Homo sapiens: one gene and its partner. The protein of the gene in region 2 interacts with the protein of the main gene of each other region in a pairwise test. Each region holds a gene or a part of one and is shown on either strand. Other genes may lie near its edges.

The links. The genes of interacting proteins can lie anywhere in the genome.
Region 1: the proteins of RAB11FIP3 (region 2) and RAB11B interact in a two-hybrid assay, tested with the Homo sapiens proteins (one study listed by BioGRID).

The regions. Positions count from the first base shown.
Region 1 is NC_000019.10:8,393,287-8,397,032, reverse strand, and holds part of RAB11B (ras-related protein Rab-11B), read right to left. Parts: intron 1-3,746. UniProt on the Homo sapiens protein: The small GTPases Rab are key regulators of intracellular membrane trafficking, from the formation of transport vesicles to their fusion with membranes.
Region 2 is NC_000016.10:498,634-502,379, reverse strand, and holds part of RAB11FIP3 (rab11 family-interacting protein 3), read right to left. Parts: exon of another isoform or gene 2,393-3,746; intron 1-2,392. UniProt on the Homo sapiens protein: Downstream effector molecule for Rab11 GTPase which is involved in endocytic trafficking, cytokinesis and intracellular ciliogenesis by participating in membrane delivery. Recruited by Rab11 to endosomes where it links Rab11 to dynein motor complex.

The DNA of each region.
Region 1 (3,746 bases), on a different chromosome or scaffold from region 2:
TCAATCCTTCAGCACATCCGAAACAGATCCAAGAGAAGGGAGGACGAGGGGTGCACCCCACCATGTCTCCCTGGGCGATTCCATTCCAGACTCTCAGACCCTGGAAGGTATTGTCTGTGCGGTCCCTGTGTTCACGCTCATCACCAACCAAAACGCTGTCCTCCTGCAGCAGCCACCAGAGAGCGCCCGTGAGTGCCGAGCCAGGGCACCTCCCTCCCTCCTCTGCAGACAACCCTCCGTGGCCCCCACCTTCCGCAGGGGAAAAGCCACAGTCCTCCCCGCTGCCCACAGGGCCCTCCCCTCCTCCCTCCCGCCCCCCCCCCGGCTCACTCTGCTCCAGCCACACAGGCCTCCATGCTGTTCCCCCAACACGCCAGGTGCGATCCTGCCTCAGGGCCTTTGCACGGGTTGCTCCTGCTGCCAGAAACGCTCTTCTCCAGGCACACACCTGGCTCCCTCCCTCATCCCCTTCGTGTGGCCCCTTAAATGCCACTTGGCCAAGAAGGCCCTCCCTGCTATGCTACTAAAACTCTACTCTCCGAATTACCCTGCTCCCGGACCCAGTTCTTCCTCCGTCACTCTTGCCACTCTCTCACCTGTCAGGTGGCATTTATCTTTTGCCAGTCTGCCCCAAGGGCAGGAATCAGGTCCTGGCACAGTGCTTGGCACACAATAAACACCCAAGAAAATGTCTGTCAAGTGAACAAACAAAATGCCAAAAAGGCTGGCAGAGCCTCCCACGCATGCCGCCTGCCCCATACCTAGAGGATGCCAGGTCACCACCCTTGGGCCACAGGTGAGGAGGGCAGGATCAGGCAGCCCCTACAACCCCACCTGGTACCCGCTCTGGTTGGCTGCTTGGAAGCCAAGAATAACAAGAACAAGGAGAATATTCGATGAGCTTGTGCTAACAAAGCTCTTGATGTGCGTTACTTCGCAGAAGCCTCCTGTAGCCCATTTTTACAGATGAGGAAACTGAGGCTTGGATGGGGAACGGGGTGCGGGGCAGAGCAGGACCCTGAAGCTATGCATGTTTGTGGGCTCGCCCTCACCTCCCAACGGTGCTCCCCAAGTGACTTGTCTGGAGCCACCGCCTGGGAAGTGAGCCAGGCAGGATTTGAACCCAGGTCTTCTGCATCCACAGTCCAAGTTCTTCCTTCGCAACTCACTGCCACACTCACTGTCCTACCCCAAACCCCAGCACGTGGCTCGGGAGTCGTGGTTCTGCCTTATGGGGTGGGCATTGAGGCTCTGGGCACCCCAGCTCCCACCGCATAGGGCAGCCTGTCCCCCTGGGGCGGCCAGCAAACTCCTACTCATCCTTCAAGACCCCTCGGCTCAGACCTCTCCTCTCCCCAAAGACCACTGCTTGGCCTGGCGTGAAAGACCTAAGACAACGGGGCTGGCATTCTCTCACGTCACCATGGGTGCCCCGCACAGGGCTACCAAGTGGACTTCAGAGAAAGACAGAAAGATGGCCGGGTACAGTGGCTCATGCCTGTAATCCTGTAATCCCAGCACTTGGGGAGGCCGAGGCAGGCGGATCATTTGAGGTCAGGAGTTTGAGACCAACCTGACTAACATGGTGAAACCCCGTCTCTATGAAAAATACAAAAATTAGCCGGGTGTGGTGGTGGAGGCTGAGGCAAGAGAATCATTTGAACCTGGGAGGCGGAGGTTGCAGTGAGCCGGGATCGTGCCACTGCACTCCAAGCTGGGCGACACAGCGAGACTCCATCTCAAAAAAAAAAAAAAAAAAAAGAAAGATGGAAAGAGGTGGAGTGAATGTAGGCGTGTGGCCCAGCACCTCCCAACCAAGCCAGTAGGGATGAGAATCGGCTCCCAGGCCACTGGGGGCCAAGATGGACTCACTGTGAGGGCCCCCATCTACACCACCAACCTTAACCTCCTTTCCACGGCAGCTACGGGAGCCTGGCCAAGGCCAGGGAGGTCTGCTCAGTTCTCACGTCCTCAGGAAATAAGACAGGAAACTCGGGCCCTGCCCAGGCATTCCCGACACCTTCACACCATTCCAGCCTTGCCCCAGCTGTACAGCCTTAGTGGCTCCTCAGCCCCATCAGTTTGTTTGTTTTTGTTTGTTTGTATTGAGATGGAATCTCCCTCGCCCAGGCTGGAGTGCACTGACACAATCTCAGCTCACTGTACTCTCCGCCTCCTGAGTTCAAGAGATCCTCCTGCCTCAGCCTCCCGAGTAGCCGGGATTATAGGCGTGCACCACGACGCCCAGATAATTTTTGTATTTTTAGTAGAGGTGGGGTTTTGCCATGTTGGCCAGGCTGTCTCAAACTCCTGACTTCAAGTGATTCACCCACCTCGGCCTTCCAAAGTACTAGGATTCCAGGCGTGAGCCATGGCACCCAGCCCCATCAGTTTTGCCCTCAAGCACTTTGGCCAGGCTGGGTCCCCAGTGCTTTGCAGGCCTCAGCTGTCCACATTCTCAGGGCTGCCCCAGGGACAGATGTAAATATTATCATTCTCCCTGAACAGCTGGGGACACTCAACCCAGAGTGACCAAGTCAGAGCAAAGGCCAAATGGCCACTGAACAGATCAATGACAGGCCAGGTGCAGTGGCTCACGCCTGTAATCCCAGCACTTTGGGAGGCCAAGGCGGGTGGATCACTTGAGCTCAGGAGTTCGAGACCAGCCTGTCAACATGGCGAAACCCCGTCTCTACTAAAAATACAAAAAATAGGTGGGCATGGTGGTAGGCACCTGTAATCCCAGCTACTCAGGAGGCTGAGGCAGGAGAATCATTTGAACCCAGGAGGCGGAGGTTGCAGTGAGCTGACACTAAGCCACTGCACTCCAGTCTGGGTGACAAAACAGGTGAATGGCAAAGAGGCTGAGCTGCCCAACCAGTCCCTGGCACTGGGTGCCCGATGCAGAGAGGTGGCCAGCGGGGCAGTGGCGGGCTGGTCCAGGATGCAGGCTGGGGATGAAAACTTCATTGTCTAGGACACAAGCAATCTGTTGTCTTGGGGAAATAAAGAGCCCTTGAGGACACAGCTCCGAGCATTTCCACAGAAGTTGGTGGCTTCACTGGCTGGGAAGCGACCCCCCTACCCCAGACACGCCACTTGGCTGACAGAGCAGGCAAGCCCGGTTGGCAAAAACAAAGAACTGGCACCTCTGAGAAGTCCTAGGTGCCCTGGCCTGCCCCATGACAGTGTGGTGGCCCTGGGGGCCCAGACCCTAATGCTCAGGCAGACTGAGAGACTCTTCAGGGGAATGGTGCCCCCATTCCGGCAGAGCCTGGCGGAGCCAAGCAGTGCCCCCATCCCTCCCCTGGAAGCTGGTCCTAAGCATCCTAGGCCCCAGGGACCGGCACTGGGGGCCACTCTTGTCTCAGCTCTTCTATGGGGAGGTGTACAGAGCCAGGGCACTGGAGGGACCCCCATTCTAAATGGGGAAGATGGTATGTTTGGGTCCCCAAACAGCAACTGGAACAGCAGGCCCACTGTGAGGTCTGCCCAGGCTTGAGGGCTGGGAGCTGCCTCAGGAGCCTCAGCACAGAAAGGGAAGCACCAGGCAGGCCCCTTCCCTGGGGACAGGGGCCACCTTGTCCTTGGGCAGGGGAGGGGTGGACAAGACCCAGAGGACAGGGCCTGGGGCAGCTGCGGCCCGTTTCCCCCACGACCCATGTCCTCCAGGGCCAGGTGAGCCCTGATTGGCCAGGGCCTCTAGGGTAGGGGAAGGGCTCTGAGAGGACCTCAGTGGCCCTTGG
Region 2 (3,746 bases):
CGCAGGCCATGCCAGTTACTACCCGGGCCAGGCTCGGGGACACAGCCTCATGGTCCTGAGTAGACGCAAAGGCCCATAGGCTGCGGCCTTGGGGCAGGAGCTTCTCCAGGGAGTGTGAACTTAGGCGCGCAGTAAGCGCGTGCTTGTGGTCACCACGTGGTCAGATTCGCTGTGGTGAATCTGTACCAACCCAAACTTGCCGGGAGTACAGAAAACTCTCAGAGCACTCGCACAGAAGAGCCAACAGCAAAGGTGCGTGTTCAGTTCTTTATACATCCTGGGAACCTCAGTACCAAGCCAGGCTCCAGGCTGACAGCCTGATGCTCAGAACTGCGTGACCGTTAAAAAGCACTGGCCCTCTCCGAGCTTCCTTGCCTATGAAATGGGGGGACCCTCTCCCAGCCTCCTTGCCTATGAAATGGGGGGACCCTCTCCCAGCCTCCTTGCCTATGAAATGGGGGGACACTCTCCCAGACTCCTTGCCTATAAAATGGGGGGACCATCTCCCAGCTTCCTTGCCTATGAAATGGGGGATCCTCTCCGAACTTCCTTGTCTGTGAAATGGGGGGACCCTCTCTGAACTTCCTTGCCTGTGAAATGGGGGGACCCTCTCCCAGCTTCCTTGCCTATGAAATGGGGGACCTTCTCCGAACTTGTCTGTGAAATGGGGGGACCCTCTCCCAGCTTCCCTGCCTATGAAATGGGGGGAGCCTCTCTGAACTTGTCTGTGAAATGGGGGGACCCTCTCCCAGCTTCCTTGCCTGTGAAATGGGGGGACCCTCTCCCAGCTTCCTTGCCTATGAAATGGGGGACCCTCTCCCAGCTTCCTTGCCTGTGAAATGGGGGACCCTCTCCGAGCTTCCTTGCCTATGAAATGGGGGGACCCTCTCCCAGCTTCCTTGCCTATGAAATGGGGGGATCCTCTCCGAGCTTCCTTGCCTATGAAATGGGGGGACCCTCTCCCAGCTTCCTTGCCTATGAAATGGGAGACCCTCTCCGAGCTTCCTTGCCTATGAAATGGGGGGACCCTCTCCGAGTTTCCTTGCCTATGAAATGGGGGGACCCTCTCCCAGCTTCCTTGCCTATGAAATGGGGGTCTAGAGGCAACTGAGGTTTAACCAAGGTCATGCATACAAACAGCTTGGCTAGGGACGTAGCAGAGTAAGAATTCCATAAAATGTTAATATTTTTCCACTGAAAATGTCTACCAAGTGTATGAAGTTCGATTTGCTTCTCAGTACGGACTGGGCTTGAACATTTCCATCTTTTTCCCCATAAACGCTCTGAGGAGACAAGCCCTGTGAACGTGCACCAGCTGGAACACACCGGTGCCCTTCTGGGGCTCTGGGGATTTCATCAGATTCTCAAAAGCTGCTGCTGATACAGATCATGTTCTTGGCCAGTCGCTGCTCTTAAACGCCCATGACCTTGCCCCCAAACATGAGCCACTCCAGGCATGAAGCTGCAACCCAGAGCCCATCCTGAGAGGCCACGACCTGTCAGCACTTCTGAGCTGTCCTAGAGGCGTAGGCACTTCTGGGGCTGACTCGGGGACACAGCCATCCCCAGGCACCCAGCGTGCAGCCACCACACGTGGCCACCAACGTGAGGCAGAGGGTCCTCAGCATGGGTCATGCGGCTGCTTATTTATTTACTTATTTAATTTTTTTTTTTTTTTTTTTTTTTTTTTTTGCGACAGAGTCTTGCACTGTCACCTGGGCTGGAGTGCAGTGGTGCAATCTCAGCTCACTGCAACCTCTGCCTTCCGGGTTCAAGCCATTCTCCTGCCTCAGCCTCCCAGGTAGCTGGGATTACAGGCACCTGCCACCATGCCCAGCTAACTTTTTGTATTGTTTTTTTTAGTAGAGATGGGGTTTCACTATGTTGGCCAGGCTGGTCTCAAACTCCTGACCTCGTGATCTGTGCGCCTCGGCCCCCCAAAGTGCTGGGAGTACAGGCGTGAACCACCGCGTCCGGCTGGGGCTGCTTATTTAAATCCCCTAGAAAGAGGGATTCTCCAGCTACACCACACCCTCACTTGGAAGGACCCTCCTCCCAGAGAGGGAGCTGTGGAAAAAGCCTGACCTGCCCCACAGGGCAGTAGGTCGAGCCTGGCTGGTGAGCAAGGAGGTACGGGGATCCCTGAGGCCTCCCACCCAGGGCCCAGGGAGCCTGCCTGCTGTGAGCACTTCCTCCAGTCCTGATGGACTCGGCTCTGCCCGGAGCCCCCGGTCTCTGCACACACAGCTGACTGGAGAAAGCCACTTCCATCTCATGGACAGGGACAGAACAAGGCTGAGGGAGGTGAGCAATGCAGCCAGGCCCGGGGGCTACAATGGCTGCTGGCAAAACCCACCATCTCAGCAATAGTTCAGCGCGAAGGGCTGAGAACTGTGAGAAGCGAATCGCGACGTTTATTTTGCTCTTCCTTAGCCTCTTGTGGCAGATTTGGGGCAAAACAACAGATTAAATCTTGTGTACATATATTTACATGTGGATAGACACACTGCAGAAGAGGTCTCTGTTTTGTAAACTCTAACGACAGATAACTGCAGATGGAGCTTTTTTTTTTTTTTTTTTTTTTGAGACAGTCTTGCTCTGTCGCCCAGGCTAGAGTGCAGTGGCGTGATCTGGGCTCACTGTAACCTCTGCCTTCTGGGTTCAAGCAGTTCTCCTACCTCAGGCTCCTGAGTAGCTGGGATTACAGGCATGTGTGCCACCATGCCTAACTAATTTTTGTATTTTTAGTAGAGACGGGGTTTCACCATGTTGGTCAGGCTGTTCTTGAACTCCTGACCTCGTGATCCACCCACCTTGGCTTCCCAATGTGCTGGGATTACAGGCGTGAGCCACTGCGTCCGGCTCAGATTGGGCTTTTTTTATGCCAAAGGGTACCCGTGAAGGAAACATTAAATTTTAAAGGGTGTTTCTGACACAAGGCTGTGACAGCCAACTGCAGGCTGCGCCCCATCCTAGGCACGGGAGGCCTCAAGCAGATGCCTTAGCTGGCCTTGACCGGTCTTTCATGTCACCAGCTGCAGCCTGTCTGGAGTAAAAGACTTGATGAAGCGGGGAGGAAGGTGATGCTGAAGTGGTAACAGAAGTGTAGCTGGGGATGCACGTCACGTTCCTAAGAGCTCAATGCTTCTCTTTTTCTTTCTTTTTTTGAGATGGAGTCTCGCTCTTGTTGCCCAGGCTGGAGTACAATGGCACAATCTCGGCTCACTCCAAGCTCCGCCTCCAGGGTTCAGGTGATTCTCCTGCCTCAGTCTCCTGAGTAGCTGGGATTACAGGCACCTGCTAACACACCTGGCTAATCTTGTATTTTTTTAGTAGAGATGGGGTTTCTCCATTTTGGCCAGGCTGGTCTTGAACTCCCAACCTCAGGTGATCCACCCACCTCAGCCTCCCAAAGTGCTGGGATTACAGGCGTGACCTACTACGCCCGGCCAGCTCAATGCTTTTCTGAAAGGGGTGAGCAAGAAGACAGTTAGAAAAAGATGCATGATGACGTTCACCTCTGCTTCCTCTAGCCCCTAGCCCCTAGCCCCTAAAATGACAGAAAATGGAAAACAAGTGGGACGCGGTGGCTCCTGCCTGTAATTCCAACATTCTGGGAGACCGAGGTGGGAGGACTGCTAGAGCCCAGGAGTTCAAGACCAGTCTGGGCCTGTCTCTACAAAAAATTAAAAAATCATCTGGGTATGGTGGCATGCGCCTGTGGTCTCAGCTGCTCGGGAGGCTGA